4 linked regions of the Homo sapiens genome follow. The protein of the gene in region 1 purifies or fractionates together with the protein of each later gene. This does not show direct contact. Each region holds a gene or a part of one and is shown on either strand. Other genes may lie near its edges. The genes, in order: ARMH4, NDFIP1, BMPR1A and CD320.

Region 1 (7,025 bases):
ATAGAGTGCAAATATGAAGCTCATGTGAAAACCTTACCCTGACTCACATTGTTTGTCCTGTAACCAGGTATATTAATCCATCAAATGTAAAAATCTCTTCAATTCAAAAGGAAAAATAGTGTTAACTGGATGAGTACCAAGAAAAGGAACTGCTTATAGTGAAAAACAAACAAATACACATTATTTTAAAGCAAATACATTGTTTACAAGGCAACTTTTTTTTAAAGTAATAGGATATGCCATGATGTCATTAATAAATTTTTTTTTTTTTTTTTTTTGAGACAGAGTCTCCCTCTGTCATCTAGGCTGGAGTGTAGTGGCATGATCTCAGGTCATTGCAACCTCCGCCTCCTGGGTTCAGGCAATTGTCCTGCCTCATCCTCCCGGGTGGCTGGGATGACAGGAATGTGCCACTATGCCCAGCTAATTTTGTTGTGTTTTTAGTAGAGATGGGGTTTCACAATATTGGCCAGGCTGGTCTCGAACTCCTGACCTTGTGATCCTCCCGCCTCAGTCTCCCAAAGTGCTGGTATTACAGGCATGAGCCACCGTGCCTGGCCTGTCATTAATAAAAACTTTGAGGAACCCTTTTAAAGCTATCCCTAGAATGTTATTTTTCATTGTATAACTTACTGATCTTGCTAAAATACTTAGTATCTAGAACTAATATTTTAAAAAAGACAATAAGGTTTTCAAGAAATTAAGTTTTTAGTAGTTGCTCTGTACAGTGTTTGAAATTTCTAGCATAGCCCCTTCATAAGAGGGAAAATCTTGACTTATAAGTAGTCTGTTGAAGGCAAAACATTTATATGATCTGAAGAGAAAGCAGAGTATTATTATAAACAGTCTTTAATACTGTATTTGAGGGAATTATAATGTTGTAAAGCAAGTGGACCTGTGACAGATAATGTCATACCCTGCCAGTTCTATTCATTTCCTTTTCTGATCTGAAAGCAAATGCACACCTTCTACAGAGGCCTCTCCAAGGTGTTCCTTGGGCATAGTTAGTACAGTGGTTAAGGGTGCTGGCAATGTGAACAAAGGCATGCTCCTTAGCTTTTCTAAACCTAAGTTCTGTAAAGTGGAGTTATAATAGCTGGTAATTATTGAATACTTACCAAATACTAGGTGTTTTACTTGTGTTATCTAATCTTTGTAGTAACTCTGTGAGATAGATACTATTATTATCCCCATTTTATAGCTGAGGAAACTCAAGGCCCACATATGTGAAGTAATTTGTTTATGCTTACACAGCTAGTAAGTGACTAAGGCAGGTTGGCTCTGGAACCTGCATTCTTGAGCACTATGATGCAGCTTCTGTGGAATGATATTAGTACCTATCTCCCTGTAGTACATATGGGAGGATGCATACTTAAGATACTATATGTCATGCACTTCGCATGGTGTTTAACATAGAAACTCAGTAAATATTAGTTATTGTAATTATTACTCCTTTATTTTAAAATGTGAGCTTCCCTTGACCCTCCAGAAATGCAAATGTGAAAATTAATACACTGTATACAAATGTTTCTGAGAGTTTTTGAGTGTAACTTAGTTCTGTATAACTTGTTTCTTAACAAACTGATTATGTTGACATTCAAACATGTGCCTGAAAGGGAGCTCAGCAATTGATCTTCCTACTTTGTTTTAGATTTCATTTTAGCTTTTTCCATGAACTTCTTTATCTCTGTTGTAGATTGATTCACAACTACTGAAAGCGTGACAGAGAAAACATTTATTTACTGTCATTTTACTTCTGAGTTCTCTCTTTGCTTCCCCAGTTCCTGAAATAGCATCTGCTCCCCTCCCCCCAAGTTTTTAATCATATCATGATTTTTTTTTTTTAAAAAAATAGGGATTTGGTCTATTTTTAAATGTTTTCCCCCCTTTAAGACATCATCACTCAAGAGATGACAACAGCTGTTCAAGAGCCAGATGCCACTTTATCCATGGTGACACAAGAGCAGGTTGCTACCCTCGAGCTTATCAGAGACAGTGGCAAGACTGAGGAAGAAAAGGAGGACCCCTCTCCTGTGTCTGACGTTCCTGGTGTTACTCAGCTGTCAAGAAGATGGGAGCCTCTGGCCACTACAATTTCAACTACAGTCGTCCCTTTGTCTTTTGAAGTTACTCCCACTGTGGAAGGTCTGTAAGGGAGGATATTGGACTCTGTTTTGGGGGTGGATCTCTTCTGTTAAGTGGACTAGGAATAGAATGAGTGAGGCAGCCGACATTGCCATCAGCGCGCGCGTGCGTGCACGTACACACACACACACACCTTTACCTGGAAAGGGGTGTGAGCTCTGTCCTGTTTGAAGAGGTGTGGCAGAGCCTTAAAAGGACAAGGGTTGGCCGGGCGCAGTGGCTCACGCCTGTAATCCCAGCACTTTGGGAGGCTGAGGCGGGTGGATCACGAAGTCAGGAGATTGAGACCATCCTGGCCAACGTGGTGAAACCCCGTCTCTACTAAAAATACAAAAAATTACCCAGGCGTGGTGGCGGGCGCCTGTAGTCCGAGCTACTCGGGAGGCTGAGGCAGGAGAATGGTGTGAACCCGGGGGGCGGAGCTTGCAGGGAGCGGAGATGGCGCCACTGCACTCCGGCTTGGTGACAGAGCGAGACTCCGTGCCAAAAAAAAAAAAAAAAAAAAAAAGGGACAAGGGTTTAGTTTGTAAGTAAGGTCTCCTGGTGGCTCACCTCTGGGTCCTCAAAGGCCAGACCCCCTGAGAAGGCTCTTCCTGTTTGGCAACTCTGCTGCTAGGAGCCGGGGGGGATGAGGTGAAAAAAGCATGGACCTGAATTTGAATCGCAACTTTGGCTTTCACTAATATTGTAGCCTCAAGCTAAGTTTCTTAACTTCTGTAAGCTTTGGTTTGTTCACCTCTAAATAATGCCTATCTGTTTTATAGGTTATTTTAAGAATTTGAAATCATGTCTACAAAGTGCTTTCTATATAGGAGGCTCTCAAATGCTCTGATCTCTTAAAGGCAGTGAAGTTTTCAAATCTATGTGAAAGCTACTGCTGTTCTAGAGTCTCTGGACTTGGGAATTCCTGGGGCTATATTTGGCTGCTTTTAAATTGACATTCCAGACCCAGATCTAGGCTCTTACTCTATGACTTGATTTTGAGAAAGACACTCGATCTTTCCAAAGTAGTCTTTGAAATACAGTTTAATATATTTTTGTTAATTATTTTACCTTTGGCAATACATAATATAAAATCTTACAACATCCATAATATTGCCAATAGAATAAATGGGAGATTAAAATTTAAAAACAAAGTTCTGATTAGAGATAATACATTTTCCTGTAAGACAATACATTTTCCTGAAAGTCTTTGCTTTGGGGAGTTGGATTAATACAATATGGGAAAGGAGAGCTGACCCAAGTGCCAAACTTGCTGTATTGTATGATATTGGTTTAATCATTTCTTGCCTAAAAAGTGAAAGCACATGCTTACATTTGCCATAATGATTATCTTGTGGGTCAAGTCCTGTCTGTTGTGTTTGGCAGAACAAATGGACACAGTCACAGGGCCAAATGAGGAGTTCACACCAGTTCTGGGATCTCCAGTGACACCTCCTGGAATAATGGTGGGGGAACCCAGCATTTCCCCTGCACTTCCTGCTTTGGAGGCATCCTCTGAGAGAAGAACTGTTGTTCCATCTATTACTCGTGTTAATACAGCTGCCTCATATGGCCTGGACCAACTTGAATCTGAAGGTATTCATGCTTTGAAGGGGATCTTTTCAAGGACTGGTTGAGTGAGTCACTGAGCAAATGTTTTTGAAAAAGAATTAAGTAGGAGTATATTCAATCTGCAGTATAGATCAGAGGACAGTAAACTACAGCTGGGCCAAATCTGGCCTGCCACTTGTTTTTGAATGGTTTGTAAGCTAAGAATGGTTTTTACATTTTGAAATGATTGAAAAAAAAAGTCAAAAGAAGAATAATATTTTGTGACATAGAAAAGTTATAAAAATTCAAATTCCAGTGTTCATAAATAAAGCTATATTGGAACACAGCCATACTAATTCATTTTCATATGTGTGTGGCTGCTTTTGTGCCATAGCAGCAGAATTAAGAAGCTGTGACAGAGACTCAGTGGCCCACAAAGCCTGAAACATTTATGATAGGGCCCTTTATAGAGCAAGTTTGCTGACTGTGCTATGGATCTGTGGTTCTCAACTATAGTTGACCATTAGAAATACCTTGGAGAGCTTTTGAAACATCCCAGTGCCTGAATCACTCTCCAGTGATTGAGATTAAGATGGTGGGGGGTGGAATCTGGCATCAGCATTTTAAAAGACTGCCTTAGATGATTTCAGTATTCAAGCTGGATTGAGAATACTAGGTTAAGATGGAGATGTTGAGTTTCCCCACCAGATTTTCTTGGTTGCAAGTTTTAATGTGGGGTGTATTTTAACAGCATTGCTCTGGTTGTTAATGCTGGGTTATTCTCCCTTAGTAACATCTCTGGGTTAGTCTGTGCTACTATTTGGAGATAGGCAGTCTCTTTATTTACTAAGACCAAGAAATTCATGCCAAATTGTACTTTCCAAGACATTGGCTTTGAGCATGTAAAAGAAACTTGAGGCACGGCTGCCTATCAACAAATAAGAAGACTAGAAATATGACACATAGTCACGTAATTAATCAGCATTTTGGCAGGTGAATAGTTCCTGGCTGGAGATACAAAATGTCCAGAGATTTATAGTGCAGAATTTCTTAAACTAATCTGGAACACTGGTAAGCTTTTGGGCACTCAATTAGCCATGTGTTTGCTGCAGTAAGAGACATAGGATGTGCTATTATTTTTTTTTGTCTAAAGCGAAGGGAAGGAGGTTGAGCTAGGTTTGCAGCTGACTCTGGTGCAGACTTTCTGGGTAACACTGGTTGGCTGCTGACAGAGGAACATGACATTTTAGGAGCAGTGTGGAGAATTCCACAGTAGAAGCCTGGTTTAAGAAACAGATCAAAGTGGGCTCAAAGGCTAACAGCTCTTGCATTCCACATTAAGATAAATACTGTATGACTTTGAGTTTAGCGTCTCATATAAACTGTCTGCTCTCCTTGATGCCATCTGGAAAAAGCAGGTTTCCCTAAATTAACCTGAGTTAGACATGACAGCTTTACCCAGCAGGGCTCATTAAATCAGAGAAAAAAAATATTTGTGAATAATCCATACTTGTGAAACTGCAGTAACTTTCTAAATTTAGTAGATGATGGCAGTTGTATTGAAATATGTTAGAATTTTCCGACATGCCTAAGGTGTCCTGGGGTTTTAGTTCTTTTCTTCTACACAATTCAATTTTGCTACTTTTTGATAATATATTTTGTTAGTTTTTGATCTAAATTATCCTTGTCATGGGTTACAAAAATATTTTTGGTCAAAAGATATTATTTTTGCTACATTGTCGGGCTTAGGATTTTGAATTAGCACATTTTTACTCGTAAATGCCAAGGAGTACAACTTATGTTTAATTAGTATACGTTAATAATACCATTGTTAGTTTTATGCTGGTGCTTCTAGTCCTCCAAAAGCTGAATTGACTACACTGATTTAAACAAATCAACCTACTAGACTCCTGGATGTATTGGAGGCCTCTATTTTCAATGCATGTTTTTCTACCTTGCCCGGGAATATAAGTGCAGCTTGAAGCTTTGACTGGGTGAAACATTTTAATTCTTCCATAAGCTTATGCCTAGAGGCAGGTAATTTTTTTTCTTATCTAGAACCCTGTATTACTTACGTCAGGTTAGCAGCCTTTCTTGTTTTAGTCTTTGTGATGAGTTTATATGTTATTTTAATATCTTCCTTTTTCACTAGGGGGCAGGAGCATTTCTCTGGGAAATGAGGTACTTTTCTCCATGGGATTTGGAAAGGGACATCCTTTGTTAGACATTAGACACCAAAGAAGAATGAACCTTTATGGAAATTTCTGAATCCGCAGCTCTGTTTATCCTTTAAGCGATAACTAACAGCCCAAATCAGTCTAAAAATGATGTCTACTTGCACCCTGTCTTCTTCCCTGCTTCTCACATCTCTACAACATGATGACTGAGAGGGGGTATGAGTTTTCAAGGGCTGTCATAACTAAGTACCACAAACTGGGTGGCTTAAAACAACAGAAATTTATTCTTACGCAGTCTGGAGCCTGCAAGTTGGAAGTCAAGGTATAGGCAGGGCTTGCTCTCTCCAAAGCCTCTAGGGGAGGAACCCCAGGGTTTCCTTGGCTTGAGGCAGCATGACTCCAATCTATTCACATGGCCGTCTGTGTCTCTGTGCTCAAGTTTTCCTTGCTTTTTAAGAACACCAGTCATTGGATTAGGGCCCATCCTAATGACCTCATGTTAATTATGTATGCCAAGACCCTGTTTTCAAATATGGTCACATTCACTGGTACTACCGGTCAGGACTTGAACATACCATTTTGAGGGACACAATTCAACATGTAACAGGGGTCTGCTTCTGAAGAGTTTGCCAGCTGTCTGTGAAGACAGACGTGCTACCTGAGTGATGTGAATTGGTAGAGTGGGAGAAGTTTTGGTGTGTTTTCCTTTTCTTAGTCACTGAAGAAAGCCTGCCTTGATAAGTGCCTGCCACCTTGTGCATATTTCAGTGTCTTTTATCTTGTCAGCAAAAATGCAGTTTGATTTTTGAAGGGATAATGGTTTATTTTTCACCTTGCCTGTTACATTTGATTTCTATGTATGACTTTTTTTTAGGGATAAATATTCTCACAATGATAAATGCCTTATACTCATTTCAGGCATACCTCTACGAGGGCTGTATTTAGCAGCTTTGAAATACAAACATAACAAACATGTTCTTTTTATTCAAAATGGGATAATGACAAATTTTATACATATTTTATAACTGCATAAATTAATTTTTGGACATGATCTTTGTATAGGTTGATTTTCTTCTCTTGTTGAATATTAATGTCTTTCCTGCTCTAAAATGCCAACTTAAAATTTCTGATTAGTCTTGAAAACATACCTGGAATTTATGTGGGTTAACT
Region 2 (7,025 bases), on another chromosome or scaffold:
CAATCCTCTCACCTCAGCCTCCTGAGTAGATGATACCATTGCCTTCTTTCTAATGAGGCCTGATTTTCTTCCTACTCCTCCAGCCTTGTCTTGACTTTGGAAGCTTTATCATGTATACCAGGGTAATCCCCTTCCCTTGCTGGTTTAGGAATGGGCACAGGATGCCATTCTGACCAGTGGAAATTGAGGGCTTCTGAGAAGCTTTCCTTGCTTCTCAAAGAAAAAAACAGTTCTTTCTAAAGGTGGTAGAAAATTTTTTTTTAAATAGTTCTTTTTCTTCTCTTGAGCACTGTCGTGTTTCAATGTAATACTGATACGTGAAACTGCCATCTTTTAACCCTGAGGGGAGGGGGGACCTGTGCCAATATGCTGATATGTCAGCTGTCCTTGATGATGTCAAAGAACCACTGACTTAACTAACCTTGTCAGGGACTTGTTTTCAGGGGAAATAAAATTTCCCCGTTTAAAAAAACAATTAAAAATTTTTTTCTAAGCCATTTTGAGCTAGGTTTTTGTTACTCACAGTCAAAAGCATCCTACCTGATACAAGTTAATTCATTTAACTTTTTTTTTTTTTTTGAGAAGGAGTCTCGCTCTGTCGCCCAGGCTGGAGTGCAGTGGCACGATCTCGGCTCACTGTAAGCTCCACCTCCTGGGTTCACGCCATTCTCCTTCCTCAGCCTCCCGAGTAGCTGGGACTACAGGCCCCCGCTACCATGTCTGGCTATTTTTTTTGTATTTTTTTAGTAGAGACGGGGTTTCACCATGTTAGCCAGGATGGTCTCGATCTCCTGACTTCGTGATCTGTCCGCCTCGGCCTCCCAAAGTGCTGGGATTACAGGCGTGAGCCACCGCACCCGGCCCATTTGATTCACTTTTTAAATGCAGTTGAAAATTTAGTTTGAAAAAAAAAAAAGACTGGAATTAATTTTATTTCTCTTTTCCTTGGAGGCTTTGGTGTCCAAGAGTTTAATGTAGTTCGAAAAGTAAAATATAGTATTTTCTTTGTTAATAAAGTAACAATTAAAATTTAGGGAAGGAATGAAAACCTCTTTAGGGCTCGAGTTCTTAACCTAAAGTCCATTATTATAGATGAGTACATATTAGCTATGTGGGGGAAAAGCTTACAACTTTCATCAGATTCCCAAAGGATTCTGGAACCCTAAAAACGTTAACAAATGTTTTATAATAAATAAGGTGGCACTACGTAGAAAAACTACAGTGGTCAAGCAACACCCATTAGTTAGTTAAGTATGCCAATTTATGACGGATAAATTGGTTTTGTTTATAAGGTTGACGATAGCAATAAATTTATCTGAAATCAGAGGATACTTTAAAAGCCTAGATCTTTTACAACTGTAAATTACTTCATGCAAATTTAACTAACTGGTAACTCTGAAGTCACTAAAGACATACATCTCTGTAATTTACTTGAGAGGTAGGCTCCTAATGGAGCAATACTTGTTAAACAGTTTTGGCTCCCCAAACATTTTGGCATAAGCAATCCTGGAAGGGAGAGGGGAAGAGAAGGAGAAAAGAAAAGAAGGAAGAAGAGAGCTAGATTAAAACTGTAACAGAATTAATGAGAGGAATGGCTGCTTTTGATGAGATATCAAAGGGGTAATATCCTTCCTTTTATTATAAAAACAACTAATTTCAGAACATATACATTATCATATTATAAACATTAAAAACAAACAAAGCAGATGGTGAACAATATTAATGATAGACCAGTTTTCAATAGATTTGACAACAAAACTTGTGTGCATGAACCATTTGCAAATGATTTTGGTTCAGCTTCATCATGAAACCACAGACAAACCAAAAATCATTTAACACACTGAAATAACTTTTAAAAAAGCAAATGAAAAATCGAATATTCAAAAATATTCTGATTATTGCCTCTCTGTAGAGCCCATCTTTTCTGTTATACAACTTACCCTGACAATCAGGATCCATTTAATTAGAGAGAGACCAAATCCTGAAATGGCCCCATACCTTCCTGCAGCTGAAGTGGTCAGGCAAAAAGACAGGAAAAACCCAATCCAGTTAAAGAGGAATGCCACTGCAAAAGCAGAGGAGGGGAAAGATGTTAGACATGTCCTGTTACCCAAGAACAAGAGTGCCTTACACCTGCCTCTGTTTAAATGACTTTCCAAAGGATAAAAGACAGCCTGTCCTCCACAACCGTCACCATACCTCCTCTAAAACATCCATTCTTCTGTCTTTCCCCAAAAAGCAAACAAGAAAAACTCCTCCCTATCAGGTTTTACACACTTATGTCTACTGCTAGTCACTTTCAAAAACGCCTTAATAGGCTGAGCACAATAGCTCACATCTGTAATCCTAGCACTTTGGGAGGCCAACGTTGGAGGATCCCGAGCCCAGCAGTTTGAGACCAGCCTGAGCACCACAGTGAGACCCATCTCTACAAAAACTGAAAAAAACAAAACAAACAAACAAACAAACAAAAGCCGGGCACAGTGGTGCACACCTGCAAGTCCCAGCTACTTGGGAGGCTGAGGTGGGGGGATCACTTGAGCCCAGGAAGTCAAGGGTACACTGAGAAGTGATCACACCACTGCACTCCAAATTCAGCCTGGGCAACAGAGCAAGACCTTGTCTCAAAAGGAAAAAGCAAAAAAAACAAAAAACAGCAAAAAGCAAACCTTAACATTCACCAAACTGTATACTTACAACCTCTGCTTTTTTTTTTTTTTTTTTTTTTGAGACTGAGTCTCACTCTGTCACCCAGGCTGGAGTGCAGTAGCACGACCTTGGCTCACTGCAATCTCTGCCTCCCAGGTTCAAGTGATTCTCCTGCCTCAGCCTCCCGAGTGGCTGGGACTATAGGCGTGCACCGCCAGGCCCGGCTAACGGCTAATTTTTGTTTTTAGTAGAGATGGGGTTTCTCCATGTTGGCCAGGTTGGTCTTGAACCTCTAGCCCCAGGTGATTCGCCCACCTCAGCCTTCCAAAGTGCTGGGATTACAGGCATGAGCCACTGTGCCCAGCCTTTGACCTCTTTTTTTTTTTTTTTTTTTGAGACGAAGTCTCACTCTTGTCCCCCAGGCTAGAGTGCAATGGTGCGATCTCACCTCACGGCAACCTCTGCCTCCCGGGTTCAATCGATTCTCCTGCCTCAGCCTCCTGAGTAGCTGGGATTACAGGTGCCTGCCACCACACCCAGCTAATTTTTGTATTTTTAGTAGAGATGGGGTTTCACCATGGTGGCCAGGCTGGTCTCGAACTCCTGACCTCAGGGCATCTGCCTGCCTCGGCCTCCCAAAGTGCTGGGATTATAGGCATGAGCCACCATGCCCAGCCTGACCTCTGCTTTTTACTGTGTGTGTTATATATATATAGTCCAGTAAATAAAATAAATGCCTTCAACATTAAATAAGTGCCCCCAAATAATCTGATTCAAGTCACTCATCCTCCTGTTCTCTGAATTTTGACAACTTATATAACATCACCTCTAAAAGCATTGCATTTTCTTATCTTTCTAATACAACAAATAAAGGAAATGGTTGCTCACTTCTATGTGAGGCACACAAAAAGATAAATGGCAAGTAACATGAAGGGAGAAAATCAGGCTGACTTTGATCTGTCAGAAAAAAGAAGCTTTCAGAGCAAAATTCATCAAAGGCATTTAATTCCTATTCTACAGATTAAGTATGAGTAGAAGCAACGCAAAAGGGCCCCGTAGACCTGGAAGATGAGGCTTAGCTCATGTAAAAATGCAGCATCCTCATAACTGCTTTAATTATATTTTCCACAGATATTCATGAAAATAGAAGGCAAAGAGAAGGGATATTAAAACAAAGGTATATTAAGCTTTGAATATTCCAGTAAAAGGCACCAAATAAACATAATGTATTAATATATTAGCTCAACTAGTTATTTTAATTCAGTCAGATTCACCCATAATCCAAAGCACTCTAGTTTGTAGGGGGTGGTTCTGATATGCATACATACTTACTGAAAAAAGTTAACATGAAAATCCCATCATTTCCTATCCTCAGCTGGTCAGCATCATCAAAATCATCCCGACCCACAAAATCCTCATCCTAAATGAAAAGAAAAAGAATTATTTCTAGGCAAAGGGAAGACATAAAGAAAAATGAAGGGTTAAATTTGAGTAGCAAGGAAAAAAGTTATTGCTTTGGTTCAGTTCAAAATTATGAGCATTAAAGGCTCAATGTGTGTTTAAAATTCCATTTTGCATTATTAATATATAATTAGAAAAGAAGCAAATCTTTCTTCTATCCCCAGTGTTCTAAATGAAATTTTCATCTTATAACCCAAGTTCTTTAACAATACACTTCAAAAATTTAATACACTTCAAAAACAATACACTTCAAGAATAGTTCACAAAGAACTATTTACTCTTCCTTTAAAAAAATATACCTCAAGAAAAGACAAAAGACAAAATTTACTTACACATTTGGTTTAAATTCTAGAATATCAGTAATCGAGGACCTGTTTAGGACCTAAAATATTAGTAATTAGAGATAAAATCAGCCAGGTGCAGTGGCTCATGCCTGTAATCCCAGCACTTTGGGAGGCCAAGGCAGGCAGATCACGAGGTCAGGAGATCGAGACCATCCTGGCTAACATGGTGAAACCCGTCTCTACTAAAAATACAAAAAAATTAGCCGGGAGTGGTGGCGGGCACCTGTAGTCCCAGCTACTCGGGAGGCTAAGGCAGGAGAATGGCATGAACCCGGGAGGCAGAGCTTGCAGTGAGCCAAGATCCCACCACTGCACTCCAGCCTGGGCAACAGAGTGAGACTCCGTCTCAAAAAAAAAAAGATAAAATCAACCAGCTCAAGTGCTTTACGAGGCTGATATAGGGGAAAAAAGAATAGTACGATCATACATGAATAGTCCACAGAACTGCCCACTGCTCAACTCCATAAGCATGTATTTGTATTGGTATACAGATCTAAATCTCACTTCTAACCTTATCAGCAGATAAGATCTTTTCCATCCTAACTTGATAACGTAATATTGCAAAACTAGAAATAACATGATCATGAACAATACCAACACATGTGGGCTATCTTTTTAACTGATATAGGTGTGTGTTGAGATATTTAAAAATAATTGAATATATACTTAAAAGTGATAGATTTGTACACAGTTCAATGAGGGCTCCTTAAATGAAAAATATTTTAGGGAATATCAAAACTTGTTGTACACAGAAAAGGGTCTGGAAGACCCAAATTGTTAACAGTGGTTCCCCTGGGGAGTGGGAACTAGAGAAAGGGAAGTCGGTGGCAATGGCAGCTTCCTTTTCTAACTTAACATACTTCCTCTATTGTTTGAAATTTCTATAAAAACGAATTTTTATAATTAATTTTTTAAAACATTAAATACCTAGTATTCTTACTTCGTATCAGCAGAATAAGGTTTTGCCAAAATTAAAAGCTAATTGTTTTTTGCATAACTATTCAAAGATATACTCCAAAAAATATATGGAAGTAACATCTAATAATATTACGAACACCTTCTAACTGTTCTTCCTGTCCTCTTGGTATCTCTTCTACCATGATGCATCCTAGAAATTGCTGCCAAGTTAATGTTTCCAAAACACCACACAAGTCCTCTCATACCCCTGCTCAAAAACTCTGAAGGATTCTCTAAAAGCTACATATGAAGTTTAAATACGCCCATCTAACATTCCAAAGATTCTATAAACAACAGTTGTAGTCAGGACTTTCTATCTCCCTTCACAAACTCTTGCTCATACAAAGCCAATTACTACATCCACAGAACTGCCTTCACCTGGCTGAATTCACACCTGCTTTCTGTGCCTTTTTCCCTCTGGAATGTTCTTACCCATCAAAACTCCGGGCCCACATCAAATCTCATTTTCCCCTATGATCACCCAGTAAAAAGTTTCAGTTCTTGATGCCCACTGCTCTTATGTGTCTTAGTTATCAGTATTTGTGGGCCCTTTACCCTAGTTGGATTTTAGGCTTTTGAATAACAATGAGGAACACTGCCTTATACAAAGCTTTTTACCTATCCACTGTAAAATATACTGCATCTTATATTTAAAAAGTGCTTTATACATGTCTGCTGAATACTAGAGCCCTTTAAGAAGTTCCTAAATATGTACTTGTATCAAATGAAAGTATTCTGAAGAGTTATGTGATTAATCAGAGCTAATTTCCATACTGATCTATTTACCATATATTGCAACAGATCTGCAGAGTACAGTGAAACAAACAAGGACTTTGGATTCTAGAATATCTGGGTTTGACTTTCACTTCTGCTACTTATCAGTCATATGACTTTGGGAAAATTACTTTTTCTCTCTGGACCTAAATTTTCACATCTGTAAAATGGAGATAATATAATCTCTACCTTTCAAGGTTACTATGAAGATTGGAAACAATATACAAAATATATAAAAGCATCAAGCACAGTACCAAGCATGTGGTTTGCTTCCAATATACGGCAGTTACATTATGATGGTCTTGCCCTTAGACACTAGGGTTTTTAGTTTCTCCCTGGTACCTGTAAGAACTGAATGCACATCATCGCCATTTAGGATCATCCTAGATTGGGCTCATAAACTATTTCTACCAAGCAATGATTTTAGGAGCTTCGCTCCTCACAGTAGGTGTGGTCTGCAAACTGTCTACTATCTTAAAGCCAAGAGGGGAACATCTGGGCCTATGCCATCACACTGCCCAGACTAGGCTTCTGTACTTGCTCATCACTCACTCCAGTTACTTGCTAGAATAGAGCCTAGAGGCCTGATGGTCCCCGCATTTCTGGGGACTTATCCTGCTTCCATTCTCCCACAATGCCCTACCTTCATCAGCCTCAATCTGGATGAATATTTACAAAATGACAAATGCAGCACTCACATATCTGACATCAAGAACCAAGAGTGCCCAATAATCTCCACTGGTTTATATGGCATCCCAATCTCCACCTCCATGAATCAACATCAGGCTAGATGGAATCTGAACTCACTATGTCCCCACAAATGACATGATCTGGACTGCT
Region 3 (7,025 bases), on another chromosome or scaffold:
AAAAGACTGATATGATTATGTTGGGAGGAGAGAACATATTCAAATACTGTTGGCTGGAATATGAATGGTTACGAAGATTTTGCAGGGTGGCTTGGCACTTTCCATCCAATCTGCACGGCTTCTCTTATAGTAAATGCATTTCTAAGAATTCATTTCATAAAATAAAAACAGTCTCAAAGGATATGTACAAACACCACAGCATATTTGCAATGCAAAAGAAAAAAATGGAAATAATCTAATTATTCATTAACACGAAACTGGTAAGTAAAATTAAGGTATAATCAGAAAATGGAATAACTGCTTAACTACTATAAAGAATGAGATGATTAAGGCTGCGCACAACACCTCACACCTGTAATCTCAGCACTTTGGGAGGCCTAGGTGGGAGGATCACTTTAGCCCAGGAGTTCGAGACCAGCCTAGGCATCATGGTGAGATCCCACCTCCACACACACAAAAATTTTTTAATTAGCTGGGCATGGTAGCATGCACCTCTGGTCCCAGCTATTCAGGAGGCTGAGATGGGAGGATTGCTTGAGCCCAGGAGTTGGATGCTGCAGTGAGCTGTTTGCACCACAGCACCACTGCAGCCTGGGCAACAGAACAAGACCTTCCCTCAAAAAAAAAAAAAAGAATGAGGAAATTGAAATTTACTGACATAAAAAGAATCCCCCTATATATTCAGTGAAAATAAATTTAAAGATAAGGATGTATCGTATGACCCCATTTTAGGAAATGGGGACAGAAAAAAAGAAAGAAGGCAACAGAAAAGAAAATTTTTTCTAGCTCTATACTTTCAACAGTGGCAATCTTGGGGCACAGGTGAAGCATGATTACAGAAGACTTTCATTACTTCATTTCTGTATTGTTTGAAATTTCAACCACAAATATGTGTAACTTCTGTTAACAGAAAACACACAGTTCTATGGTAATACGTAGTTAGGGAAACTATACTAGAGTTTCACCATGTGTATTAGCATATTAAAAGTTCTGAGAAGGTTTGTAGTAAAGAAATCTAATATACCAAAAGATTATCTTCAAATAATGATGCAGCAAAGAGCCAACTATGAGGCTTGGACCACTGAGGAGGGCTTCATAGGAGAGAGAGGAATATTCTTTTTTTTTTTTTTTTTTTTTTGAGACAGAGTCTTACTCTGTCGCCCAGGCTGGAGTGCAATGGTGCAATCTCGGCTCACTGCAACCTCCACCTCCCAGGTTCAAGTGATTCTCCTGTCTTAGCCTCCTGAGTACCTGGGATTACAGGCGTGCCACCACACCCGGCTAATTTTTGTATTTTTAGTGGAGATGGGGTTTCACCATGTTGGTCAGGCTGGTCTCGAGTTCCTGACCTCGTGATCCTCCCGCCTCGGCCTCCCAAAGTGCTGGGATTACAGGCGTGAGCCACAGCACCTGGCCAAGGATTTATACTAGATTTTAAAGCATTCTGATGGGCAAAGAACCAGGGAAAGGAAAGTCAAAGGCAGTACTGTCCAATATGACGTGTAATTTTAAACTTTCTAGTTGCCACATTTAAAAAGTAAAAAGAATCCTGTGAAATCAGTTTTGTTTTTTTAACTGAGACAAGGTCTCACCACGTTACCCAGGCTGGTCTCAAGCTGCTGGGCTCAAGCAATCCTCCCACAGTGCTGGGATTACAGGCATGAGCCACCATGCCCGGCCAAAATCAGTTTTAATATATTTCTTTAATCCAATGTATCCCTAACAGTATCATCTCACTATATAACCAATATTTTAAAAGCATAATGAGATATTTTACATCTTTTGGTACTATCTTCAAAATCTGGTACGTAATTCACACTTAGACTAGCCACAGTTCAAGTCTTCAACAGCCACATGTGGTAGTGGCTATCTATTGTAGTGGACAGTAGAGGTCTAAGGATTCTGAACCCAAACCTGAATCGGATATTTACGTGACTTAGGCTGATAAAATAGTAGGAAAGGAAGCAAAGCAGAAAAGGCTGACTTGGCCAGAGCAGGAGACCAGTCCAAGATATTCTGGATTTTCTATTGTAAGCAAATAAGAAAACAGGGAAAAATATTTAACAAATAGGGATGATGACCAAAGCAGTACTTCAGAAAGATTAACAGTTTTTGCTAAAATATACACGTACAACTTCAACATGCAATTTTTCCCCCACATTTTTATTAAATAAAAGATTATAAAATGAAGGAAGAATAATCTGTCACCCAGCGATTATATTTCATTGATTTGGTATACATTTAAGATACTTCTGAACAGTTACCACTGAAATATTTTTATTTCATGACATTTTTAAATGATTCTTGAAAAATGCAGACATTAAGAGCCTCACCAAAATTTAACAGCCTTTACTTTAATATTTTCTAACAAGAGCTTCTTTTAGCCAGGAATCTAAAACATTCTTATATACAAATTTAAAACACTCAAGACCCTATACTCTTGAAATACATTACAAAGCATTTTAATTACTAGTAAGAAAACTACCTACAAATCTTAATATACATAAAACAGTATCAAAACTATCCAAGTCAGCCAGATGTGGTGGCTCACGCCTGTAATCCCAGCACTTTGGGAGGCTGAGGCGGGAGGATCACGAGGTCAGGAGATTGAGACCATCCTGGCTAACACGGTGAAACCCTGTCTCTACTAAAAAATAGAAAAAATTAGCTAGGCGTGGTGGCGGGCTCCTGTGGTCCCAGCTACTCAGGAGGCTGAGGCAGGAGAATGGCGTGAACCCGGGAGGCAGAGCTTGCAGTGAGCCAACATGCGCCACTGCACTCCAGCCTGGGCGACAGAGCGAGACTCCGTCTCAAAAAAAAAAAAAAAAAAACAACTATCCAAGTCTCCTACAGATTTCTCACCTTCAAAATTGAGAGTCTATCTTCTCAACATTTTGATACTTTACCCAAAGGCTAAAGAAAAAAAAATTAATGCTCAAAAAAGGAGGTAAGAAAGCAGGATACGGGAAGGGCACCGCAGGCATAAGCCATACTCCCTTTGGTACTTGCAAGGACTGCCAAGGCTGGCGTGATTCTTCAGCCAAAAGTCAGAAGTCCAGTGATGTCATTAGGACCAAAAGCATTATATGACCTTCAATTTCGGCAGCTAACTGTGCTGCAAGTCAAGATATTTTCTTTCTTTTTCTTTTTTTAAGCAGAAAAATTATCTTAAAGTTCACCATGTTCCTTCTATTTTTTAAGATAAAGAAACGAAGATTCGGATTGGGTTAGTGTGGCATCCGTGATTGAATAGGTACTCAGTAGTAAAACCAGTATCAGACATTATTTATAAAAAATTAGAAGCTGAAACTTAATCATTCCGCTGCTTCTTTATGGCTTTTTATACTTCCCAAATTACCCACAATAGATGTATTGCCTTTAAAATTTTTAAAAAGCTGCAAAAACTGCTCACTTTACCGAATACTTCTGGCCGGGCGCAGTGGCTCATGCCTGTAATCCCAGCACTTTGGGAGGCCGAGGTGGGCGGATCACGAGGTCAGGAGTTCGAGATCAGCCTGACCAACACAGCGAAACCCCGTCTCTACTAAAAATACAAAAATTAGCCAGGCGTGGTGGCTCACGCTTGTGACCCCAACTACTTGGGAGGCTGAGGCATGAGAATCGCTTAACCCGGGAGGTAGAGGTTGCAGTGAGCCAAGATCACGCCACTGCACTCCAGCCTGGGCGACAGAGTGAGACTCCGTCTCAAATAAATAAATAAATACTACTGAATACTTCCAAAAACAGTCTCCTTGTCCTTTCTTGCCTAAGGTCTCACTCTGCGGGCTACCTTTCTCAGGAAAGCCTTCCAAAGTACCCGCATCCTGAACAGCCCAGCTTCCCTTATCAGTCTTGTAACATTCCCTGGACTTCCTTTTTGTAGATCTTAACATAACTACAACTAGATAATTATTTAATGTCTATCTTCTCTACCCAGGCCTTAAGTTGAAATTTCTCAAGACTGGCCAGGCGCAGTGGCTCACACCTGTAATCCCAGAACTTTGGGAGGCCAAGGCGGAAGGATCACCTGAGGTCAGGAGTTGAGACCAGCCTGGCCCACGAGGCAAAACCCTGTCTCTACTAAAAATACAAAAAGGAGCCAGGCGTATTGGCGGGCGCCTGTTAAACCCAGCTACTCGGGAAGCTGAGCCAGGATAATCACTTGAACCCAGGAGGCGGAGGTTGCAGTGAGCCCAGATCGCACCACTGCACTCCAGCCTGGGAAACATAGCAAGACTCCGTCTCAAAAAGAAAGAAAAAAAATTCTCAATGCTGTTTTAGGCTCTTTGCTAGACCATACAAGGAGTTCTCGATACGAGGTCTATAACCTATAACCTGTAATTCTATAACCTATAACCTATGTCTTCCTCTGCCAGATATATGCACCTGCCTGAAATGAGACCACAAAAGTGAAGAACAGAAAAGACAACCTCAATTAATTATATCATTTGAGCACTTAGGTCCAGCCATGTCTATTTCTAGACCTTTCAATATCATGGGGGTTAGTGGGGAGAAGCTTTTCCCTCCTTTAAGCTAACTTGAGTTAGGGCTGTCACTTGTAAGCAAGAGTCACTTGAGAGAGCCACCCAATTCCCACTGTTGGAATATAAAATCTATACAGCAATGACTCCCAAATGCCTACCTCCAGCACAAACCTCTGTCAAACCCCAGACCCATATAGACAACTGCCAAGTGGAAATCCCTACTTGGCTGTTTCAGATATCTCAAACTCCATGTGATCCAATACTATTTTCTTCTACAAACCAGCTCTCCCACCTCATTTTTCATATCTGTCACCCACATCTACCCTGCTTTCCAAGCTAGAAATCCAGGAGTTGTTCTTGCCAATCCCATTCCTTCTCTCATCCACGCTAGTTATCGCCTCCTATCCATTCCAGGCCCTAATTATCTGCCACCATCTTAACCCATTTATGCCTGAGGCTGCAATTTTTTGAATTTTTGCAATCAGACCTTGGTGATGACCTTGAGCAGGATATAAATAACTCCCACGTGCTTAGCGTTCCAATAGTGGAACACTAGGCATAAATGGGTTTAATCCGGGCTAGGCCAGAAAGACCTTCCTACAAGTTTGAACATCTTCAGTCTTCCTTTCTTCAAAATGATTTTCCAACATGTAACTAATCTCCCTAACTGCAAATGTGATTATAATATTTTATCCCTATCTCTAGCATACTCCTGTCCTCCTTCATAAGTCAACAGCCAATTATATACAGCTGGATCAAGAGCCAAGCTCCACTGTTCCAGACTTTAACAGTATAACAAATCTGTGCCATAAGAAAGGAAGGCTCATCAGAAATATAAAACTATAAAAGAGTAACAAAGTCTACAACATCAGAGTAAATAAAAGATACTCAAAGATAATTTACTCATCTATTCAATGTCTACTCATTAGTTATATATTAAACTGCCCATACGAACTGGCTTAGGGACCACAGGGGCCACCCTGAGATGGAGTCTACTGATCATCTGATCTCCCTATGCCCCTAACTAGTGTTCTTTTCAAAAAACACTACTGGGGATTTCCAGGCACATCCAAGAGCTTTGATTAGGGAGAGAAACACTATTCATCAATTCTAAGATGCATCCATTTTTCATATTTTAGCATCTCCGGAATTGGGGTGCACCTTACAATCAATGGCTTCTTACAACTAGAAGCATATTTTAAGTGGTCTGTAACACTACTGTGTATCTTACAATGGACATAACTCAATGCAAGTCAACATTTAATCTTGTGTTAAAAAGTTGGTCCAACTTGGTCAATATGGACCTTGTGATGTTAAAAAGACATCCTAAAGCCTAAAAACTAGTAAAAGGTGGGAAAGTAGAAAAGGAAAAGAAATGGTTCCTACTTCAAAATTTAGTGTGATAGGAAACCCATTTTCCTTTCTCTCCATGGTTCGCTGCTCCTAAGATCCAATAGTCAGATCAGGACAGTTCAACAGCTACTGTTAGGCTAGACAGGAGCCTTTCCCCATTTATTCCTTTTAATATGCAAGAAAAGTCCGTTACAGACCCACCCTGCAAACTAGTAGTGAAACTAATATTTGTATAAAAACTGCTATAAAGGCCAGCCACAGTGCCTCACCTGTGTAACCCCAGCACAGGGAGGCTGAGGCGAGCGGATCAACTGAGGTCAGGAGTTTAAGACCAGCCTGGCCAACATGGCAAAACCCCACCTCTACTAAAAATACAAAAATTAGCCAGGCGTGGTCCCAGCTACCTGGGAGGCTGAGGCAGGAGAATCCCTTGAACCCAGGAGGCAGAGGTTGCAATGAGCTGAGCTCACGCCATTGCACTCCAGCCCAGGCGACAGTGCGAGACTCTGTATCAAAAAAAAAAAAAAAAAAAAAAAGAAAGAAAGAAAGAAAGAAAGAAAAAACAATAAGGTATTAAAAAAAAAAAAAAAAAAAAACAGGTAAATCTGAGGCAAATACCACAGAAAATATTTCATTTAATGGAAGACCTAGGAAACTTCTGAGTGGCGAAGTGGTAAGAACTGGGCTTACAGATTAATTTAGGCAGAAATACATAAGATTAGATAAAGGAGAAAAGTGAAGGCAAGAAAATCATAACATTAGTCCAGGTGGGATGAGAACTTGATTTAGAGTTAGGGGGTGGGGGTGGAGTCGCGGGGTGGTGGGGGGAGAACTACGTGAAAGCCAAATAACACTAGATTTGAAAATAAATTCCTGAAAAAAATGTGAAACATTAAAATTCATATGAGAATCAGAAAATCGACACAAACCAACAGCTATTAAAGAAATTGAAGTGTTACTCAAAGTCCTCTCCAGAAAAAAGATCTAGGCCTAAATGGTCACATAGGGGAGGTCTTCCAAACTTTCAAGGAACAGATAATCCCAGTCTAAAATGATCCTGAAAAAGAGAAAAAGAAGGAAAGCTGCCCAACTCGTTTTATGATTTGACTACTACCTTCACACCAATATGAATTCAGAATTGCCCCACAGTTAGCAAGAATAGAGAGCAGAAGAGTTACAATATCATAA
Region 4 (7,294 bases), on another chromosome or scaffold:
GAGTGATGGTGCACACCTGTAATCCCAGTTACTTGGGAGGCTGAGGCAAGAGAATCACTCAAGCCTGGGAGGCGGACGTTGCAGTGAACTGAGATTGTGCCACTGCACACCAGCCTGGGTGACAGAGCAAGAGTCTGTCTCAAAAAGAAGGAACTCAGTGGAGTGGTCCTTGTTGTCACCTTCTGATTCACTGGAGTCCAGCACCAGAGTGTGGCAAGATACCTTGTTCCCACACAGCCCCTTGCCATGCCCCCAGAGATGTGTGCATTTCCCAGGGAGGCCACTTCTGCCTTTTCCATTTCCTTGAGGCTCCTGGGAGGTCCTGTGCCTCCACCCCTGGGGCGCCTCCTCCATCACCCCACCCTCCTGCTTCCTTTCTTGCTTAGGCTGTGAAGTGTGTGAGCTCCACAGGCTCAGGTGGGTGGGGTGAGAGGGGAGGGTGCTCGTCCTGGACTTGCCGGCACAGGGTCTCCTGGGGGCTCCCTCTTGGCCAGCTCTGGGCCAGAGATGCGTTTTGCAGTTGCCATTTGCGCATGGATTCTCAGCCCCACCAGCCTGAGTCTTCCTGAGGGCGGTGCCCCATCTTCCTGGCTCTGCGCCCACACAGTAGCGCCTGCCATGCAGTTCTTGCCCAGTCTGAGGCAGGAATAGCTGGAGGCCATTGTCACCTGATCGCTTGGCCCTTTTGCCAGCATCCTGTTTTGAGGGGCAGCAGGAATGGGGGTGGGGGCCTTGTGTACGCTGGAGACCAAAAGTGGGAAGGGAGGAGCCCAGCTCTCCACAGTGGGTTCTGGGCCTGGGGGCCACAGCAGGGGGTTCATACAGGGCTCAGGGGAGAGAGGAGGCTTGCTAGCTCCCACCTGGCGTTGGCTGATCCTCTGAGGGGCTGCGTTGGAGGGGTTGGCATTCTGGAACACCCTGCTGTCTGTCCTGCAGGTCCAGAAAGTCCCTGTGGGTGTGTTTGTCCCGGGGCAGGTGTGGGCTCCCTCAGATCTTTCCACACTGTTCTTTGGAAACCCTCACTGAAGTCTTTCCCTCCTCCAGCTCTGCTGTAGCTGCCACTGAGAAGAAGGCGGTGACTCCAGCTCCTCCCATAAAGAGGTGGGAGCTGTCCTCGGACCAGCCTTACCTGTGACACTGCACCCTCACGGCCACCCGACTACTTTGCCTCCTTGGATTTCCTCCAGGGAGAATGTGACCTAATTTATGACAAATACGTAGAGCTCAGGTATCACTTCTAGTTTTACTTTAAAAAATAAAAAAATAGAGACAGAGTCTCACCATGTTTCCCAGGCTGATCTTGAACTCCTGGCCTCAAGCGATCCTCCTGCCTTGACCTCCCAAAGTGCTGGGATTACAGGCATGAGCCACCACACCTGGCCTGATTTTATTTTTATTTTTTAGACCTTCCCACTGAGGCCTCTGCTTGACCTTGGTCACCCTGTAGCTCAACGGGGAAGGCAAAGGACAGTGAGGGCTGCTTACAGGGAAGGCAGACCTAGGGCAGATCAGGAAAGGCCTCCCTGAGCCAGAAACCATTATGCTGGGGCTGTGGGATGAGAATGAGTTAGCTCCAGAAGGAAGGCAGCTGGTTCCTGGGGAGGAGATAGAAATCTGGCTGCAGGAGCCAGAGTTTTCGCGCTTGTCACCCAGGCTGGAACGCAACGGCACGATCTCAGGTCACTGCAACCTCTGCCTCCTGGGCTCAAGCAATTCTGCCTCAGCCTCCCGAGTAGCTGGGACTACGGGTGTGCACCACCATACCCGCTAATTTTTTTTTTTTTTTGTAGAGATGGCCAGGCTGGTCTCAAATTCCTGACCTCAGGTGATCCGCCCGCCTTGGCCTCCCAAAGTGTTGGGATTACAGGTGTGAGCCACCACGCCTGGCCCCTGATTTTAAGCAATACCCAGCTTACTTGGATTTTGGGGTGAAGTCAGTGCTGAGTCTCCCAACTCTGTTGGCACTCCAGGGGTGGGACAGACACTGTCCCTGGGTGCAGAGGCCCTGGAGACAGCACTGCCCTTTCCCCCAAAGGCCAGGCTCTGACCTTGAGAGTGGTGGGAGTGGGTGATCCTTCTGGGAGGTTGGACTCCCAGGACCGCTGGCTGTTGGGGAGCATTGATTGTGAAGACCAGTCAGGTGGGGTAAGGGGTGTATGTGCGGACACTCAGTAGGCCAGCCACAGACTTCTCACTTCTTTTTTTTTTTTGAGACAGAGTTTCGCTCTTGTTGCCCAGGCTAGAGTACAATGGCGCGATCACGGCTCACTATAACCTCTGCCTCCTGGGTTCAAGTGATTCTCTTGCCTCAGCCTCCCGAGTAGCTGGGATTACAGGCGCCTGCCACAAGCCCAGCTAATTTTTGTATTTTTAGTAGAGACGGGGTTTCGCCATGTTGGCCAGGCTGGTCTCAAACTCCTGACCTCAAGTGATCCGCCCACCTCTGCCTCCCGAAGTGTTGGGATTACAGGCGTGAGCCACCGCGCCTGGCCTAACTTCCATCTCTTGAGGGCTCCCACAGCCACTTCTCACATGAACCTTCCTCAGCACCTTCCCACTGAGGCTCCTGCTTGACCATGGTCACCCTGCAGCTCAACGGGGAAGGCAGAGGACAGTAAGGGCTGCTCACAGGGAAGGCAAACCTAGGGCAGATCAGGAAAGGCCTCCCTGAGCCAGATCCCATTATGCTGGGGCTGTGGGATAAGAATGAATTCGCCCCAGAAGGAAGGCAGCTGGTTCCTGGGGAGGAGACAGAAATCTGCAAAGGGAGGGTGTCCAAGTCTGGCTGCAGGAGCCACCCAGTGACCCTACGCAGGGGAGTGTCATGGCTTCCCCAGGGCACAGCCCCAGACCCTTCAGCAGCTAAAAAAGATCAGCTGTGGACCAAGAGGGTGCTGAGACCGCCCTGCCCTCTGGAAGGGGAAAGGCCACGGCTACAGGCAGCAGGTACCAGTGTCCCAGAGTGGGTCCTACAAAGGCTAACACCTTCCTGGAGAAGGTGGGATTCTGCTTGGGGCAAAAGGATGAATCAGATTCAGAAAGGTCAGGAGGGAAGGAAAGACTAGGCAGGGTGTGCAGAGGCCACAAGGAGGGCAAGACCCTAGGCAAGGCATGCCGCTGACGGCATCTGAACCAAGTTTTATGACCACAACTTTTTTTTTTTTTTGAGACAGAGTCTCACTCTGTCACCCAGGCTGGAGTTCAATGATGTGGTCTCGGCGCACTGCAACCTCCGCCTCCCGGGTTCAAGCGATTCTCCCATCTCAGCCTCCCTAGTAGCTGGGACTACAGGAGCATGTTACCACACCCGGCTAATTTTTGTATTTTTGGTAGAGACGGGAGTTTTACTATGTTGGCCAGGCTGGTTTAGAACTCCTGACCTCGTGATCCGCCTGCCTCGGCCTCCCAAAGTGCTGGGGTTAACAGGCGTGAGCCAGCGCGCCGGCCAACTTTTCTAACAAATGGGGTCTCACTGTCACCCACGCTGGAGTGCAGCCCCAAGTGATTCTCCCACCTCAGCCTCCTGAGTAGCTGGGACTACAAATTAGAGCCACCATGCCCAGCTAATTTTCTTTTTTCTTGAGGCGGGCGGGGACTTGCTGTGTTGCCCAGGCTGATCTCGAACTCCTGGGCTCAAGCGATCTGCCCGCCTCTGCTTCCCAAAATGCTGGGATCACACACGTGACCCACCGCGCCCGGCCTTTATTATTAAATTTAATTAATTAATTGATTTCCTTTCCTTTTTCCCCCCCAAGCAACCCGACTCCGAGAATGGACGTTTCATTTATTCATTTACTCACCAAATGTTTACTAAGAGCCTACTATGAGTCAAGCACTATGTGTCAGATCCTGAGAATAAAGCAGTGAGCAACAGAAGATCCCTGCCCTCCAGTAGCTAGCATTCTATGGGGACTCGGACAACAAACCAGAATAAGTAAATAAAATAAATTACCTGTCGGCGCCACAAAAGCAGTGGGATGAGGGAGGAAATGCGGAGTGCCTGAGGGGCGTGGCTGCCATATTAAAGAAGATCACGAGGCAGTAACATTTGCAGCAGTCCTCATTTGGAACGGGAAATAATGCAAATGAACACCAACAAATTCCTTCCCATCCCCAGAAGTTTCTAACTTCAAGCGGGCTCCATACCTTTCAACTGATCTGGTCACTGGGGAAAGTGGGGACGGGCCTCTAATTCTCTTTTCCCTGCTATTCTGACATTTACGGTACGCGTAGCCGCGGGCGCCGCAGAACTCAGGGGCTTGGGCCCCGCCCCAACCCCGCGCGTGCGCGTGCGCAGGGATAAGAGAGCGGTCTGGACAGCGCGTGGCCGGCGCCGCTGTGGGGACAGCATGAGCGGCGGTTGGATGGCGCAGGTTGGAGCGTGGCGAACAGGGGCTCTGGGCCTGGCGCTGCTGCTGCTGCTCGGCCTCGGACTAGGCCTGGAGGCCGCCGCGAGCCCGCTTTCCACCCCGACCTCTGCCCAGGCCGCAGGTGAGTGACGCCCCGCAGCGCGGGCTCCCACCCCTCGCGAGGCTTCGCCCCGCCGCCGCGCACCGACAACGCCTAGTCACTGGCTGCACCGCACGTCAGTTCATGACACTCCCCCAGCACGTGGACTTGGACTTCATCGCTTGTGGGAAGGCGCGCACTGGTGCTAGGAAGACCCCATGCTGGGGGAGGGGAGGAGGGTGTCTCCACCTGCCTTTAACGGTTTTGCTCCGGCCCTGCACACCGTCTCCACACCTGCTGTGCCCTGTCGTCCCCCATTGTCACCTCCAAGCCGCCCTTCATACCAGCGTGGTCAGGAAAGCTCTTAGCAGGCTCAGATTGTCCGACCGCTAATCACGCAGGACGGGTCACCTGGTGCCTCTCGCACCTTTGCCTTCCAAACCCTCGCGCCCAGGCCTTGTGACCGTTCCGCAACCGTCCCTGCCCTCCCAGTCTCTCCTCCTTTGTCCTCCATCCTTAGAGAACGCGAGGTCTCTCCCCCCCATGCTACTGCAGGCTCTCGCAGAGACTGGGGTCACAAGTTGAATATACCCCCGTGGACGTGTTCGCCCTGGCCTAAGAGGTATTGGTGGCCAGTGGGGACGGGCTCCCTCTCTGATACCCCTAGAGGCAGCTGGAGGGTTGGAGTGGCCTCCCTGTGCACTCAGGCACTCCCAACTTGCAGCCCTGGGCTCAGGCTCACACACTTTCCCAGCTCCTTTGTGCATTCCGCACTTCTAGGTCCCTGGACTCATCCCAAAGTCCCTGACATTCACGTTAAATGTTCCTGGGTTTTTTTTTGTTTGTTTTTTTTTAAGGAGGCAGCGTTCACGTTAACCAAGTACAAAAGTTTTTGTTTTTTTTTTTTTGAGTCTCCCTCTGTCGCCCTGGCTGGAGTGCAGTGCAATGTTGGCTCACTGCACCCTCCGCCTCCCGGGTTTAAGCAATTCTCATGCCTCAGCCTCCCGAGTAGCTTGGGACTACAGGCACCGTCACCATGCCCGGCTAATTTTTGTATTTTTAGTAGAGATGGGGTTTCACCATGTTGGCCAGACTGGTCTCGAACTCCTGACCTCAAGTGTTCTGTCCGCCTCAGCCTCCCAAAGTGCTGGGATTACAGGACAAAACTCTATACACAGTCTCTTTTTTCTCAGGATGTTGAGGTAGGGATTCCCAGCATACCCCGTTTACAGGTGAGGAAACTGAGGCCAGGAGAGAAAGTCACTGGTCACTGTAACTCCTGTCAGGCTTACACCCTATGAGGCGGGGACTGCTGTGCTCTACTGTCCACTTTGCAGAGGGATACACACTCCCGCAGTCCAGCGAAGGGAGGTCAGAGGTGTCAGGGCTGTGGAAGTCTGCGCCTGGGTGGAGAGCCACACCTGGAGGCTGCCAGATCTCCCGGGGGCGGGGAAGGAAGCAGGCACCGGTTTGTCCACAGCTCTTCTGGGATCCATAGAGCTCAGGGACCCTGTGGCAAGTAGGTGCAATTAGGCCTGAAGGCCGAGGAGGGGCTGGCAGTGGGGAGTGGGGGGTTGGAGGCTCATGGCTGGTGGGTAAAGGTGGAAGAGGTTAAAGGCCTTGGCAGAGTGAAGCTAAGCCAGGGTGGCGGATTTGCCACCTCCCCTGGCCGCACCCAGGAGGAAGCCGTAAAGGCCACTCCCTTCCTCTGTCCCTTGGCCCAGGTTGCGGGCCCCTCCGTGCCCCTCCAGGTCGGCAAGCAGCTGAGCTTCCCTGCTCAGAATCTAGGACAGCCGGGATCTTCTCTGGACCCAGCTTGGACCCTTATGTGACCTGTGTCCACTTATAATCAGGCACTGCCCTGGGTTTAGGCGGCCAGGTCACAGCCCTGACCTCCACAGAATGTCCAGTCTGTGGGTGGACAGGCATGACCAGGGCTTTAAGGACAGTTGTTAGACATGGGAGGCAGTGCTTCCTAGGTCTCCAAGAGGGACATGAGAACCCTCCCAGGAAATCAGCTGAGATCTGAAAATTGAGGGGAAAACACAGGGTGTAGGGAGGAGAGAGGGAAAGGCAAGTCTCTGGTGTCCTAATGGACCTTGGGGCCTGGGGCCTGGGGCTCTGGTGAGGAGCTGACACATTTAGGATGGGGAGAGTGATAGGTCTGGGAGGAATTCAGGAGGCGGGGCAACAGGACTTGGTGACTGAGCAGATTTTCTACCCAGTGCCTCAGTTTCCCACCCACTGCCTCAGTTTCCCTTTTGCTACGCAGAGGAGATAGACCCTCCCTGCTGACCTGAGCCCGGGAGCCTGACCCAGGGCATGTGGAAAAATGGCCCGTCCCTCAGTCTCTTTAACCACTGAGTTTGGAGGTCTCCCTGGCAGATCATCTCGCTATGAGGAGCCTGGTGAAGACTCTGGGATCAGCGAGACCTGAGTTCGAAGCCCAACTCCGCTACCAGCTCTTTTTTTTTTCTTTTTTGTGGTGACGGAGTCTCGTTCTGTCGCCCAGGCTGGAGTGCAGCAGTATGATTTCGGTTCATTGCAACCTCCATCTCCCAGGTTTAAGCGATTCTCATGCTTCAGCCTCCCGAGTAGCTGGCATTACAGGCGTGCACTACCACGCCCGGCTAATTTTTGTATTTTTAACAGAGACGGGGTTTCCATGTAGGCCAGGCTGGTCTCGAACTCGTGACCTCAAGTGATCCACCTGCCTCGGCCTGCCAAAGTGCTGAGATTACAGGCGTGAGCCACTGCACCCAGCCTCTGCCACCAGCTGTATGGCCTCCTCTTGGTTCCTTTCTCTGTAACCTGGGGAGTGCAGTAGCACCTGCCCAGTGGGGCT

What was found.
Region 2: the proteins of ARMH4 (region 1) and NDFIP1 purify together in Homo sapiens (affinity purification with mass spectrometry; 2 studies listed by BioGRID and IntAct, with this or other methods). This does not show direct contact.
Region 3: the proteins of ARMH4 (region 1) and BMPR1A purify together in Homo sapiens (affinity purification with mass spectrometry; 2 studies listed by BioGRID and IntAct, with this or other methods). This does not show direct contact.
Region 4: the proteins of ARMH4 (region 1) and CD320 purify together in Homo sapiens (affinity purification with mass spectrometry; 2 studies listed by BioGRID and IntAct, with this or other methods). This does not show direct contact.

What each region holds. Positions count from the first base shown.
Region 1 is NC_000014.9:58,128,210-58,135,234, reverse strand, and holds part of ARMH4 (armadillo-like helical domain-containing protein 4 isoform 1 precursor), read left to right. Parts: intron 1-1,893; coding exon 1,894-2,145; intron 2,146-3,513; coding exon 3,514-3,723; intron 3,724-7,025. UniProt on the Homo sapiens protein: May modulate immune response and may play a role in inflammation. Down-modulates STAT3 signaling throught direct interaction with IL6ST, resulting in the inhibition of phosphorylation of STAT3 at 'Tyr-705'.
Region 2 is NC_000005.10:142,132,774-142,139,798, reverse strand, and holds part of NDFIP1 (NEDD4 family-interacting protein 1), read right to left. Parts: intron 4,070-7,025; coding exon 3,982-4,069; intron 2,066-3,981; coding exon 1,941-2,065; intron 1-1,940. UniProt on the Homo sapiens protein: Activates HECT domain-containing E3 ubiquitin-protein ligases, including NEDD4 and ITCH, and consequently modulates the stability of their targets. As a result, controls many cellular processes.
Region 3 is NC_000010.11:86,759,597-86,766,621, reverse strand, and holds part of BMPR1A (bone morphogenetic protein receptor type-1A isoform 3 precursor), read right to left. Parts: intron 1-7,025. UniProt on the Homo sapiens protein: On ligand binding, forms a receptor complex consisting of two type II and two type I transmembrane serine/threonine kinases.
Region 4 is NC_000019.10:8,305,346-8,312,639, reverse strand, and holds the start of CD320 (CD320 antigen isoform 1 precursor), read left to right. Parts: upstream 1-4,281; 5' UTR 4,282-4,349; coding exon 4,350-4,491; intron 4,492-7,294. Other genes in the region: NDUFA7 (NADH dehydrogenase [ubiquinone] 1 alpha subcomplex subunit 7), read left to right, coding at 1,045-1,135. UniProt on the Homo sapiens protein: Receptor for transcobalamin saturated with cobalamin (TCbl). Plays an important role in cobalamin uptake. Plasma membrane protein that is expressed on follicular dendritic cells (FDC) and mediates interaction with germinal center B cells.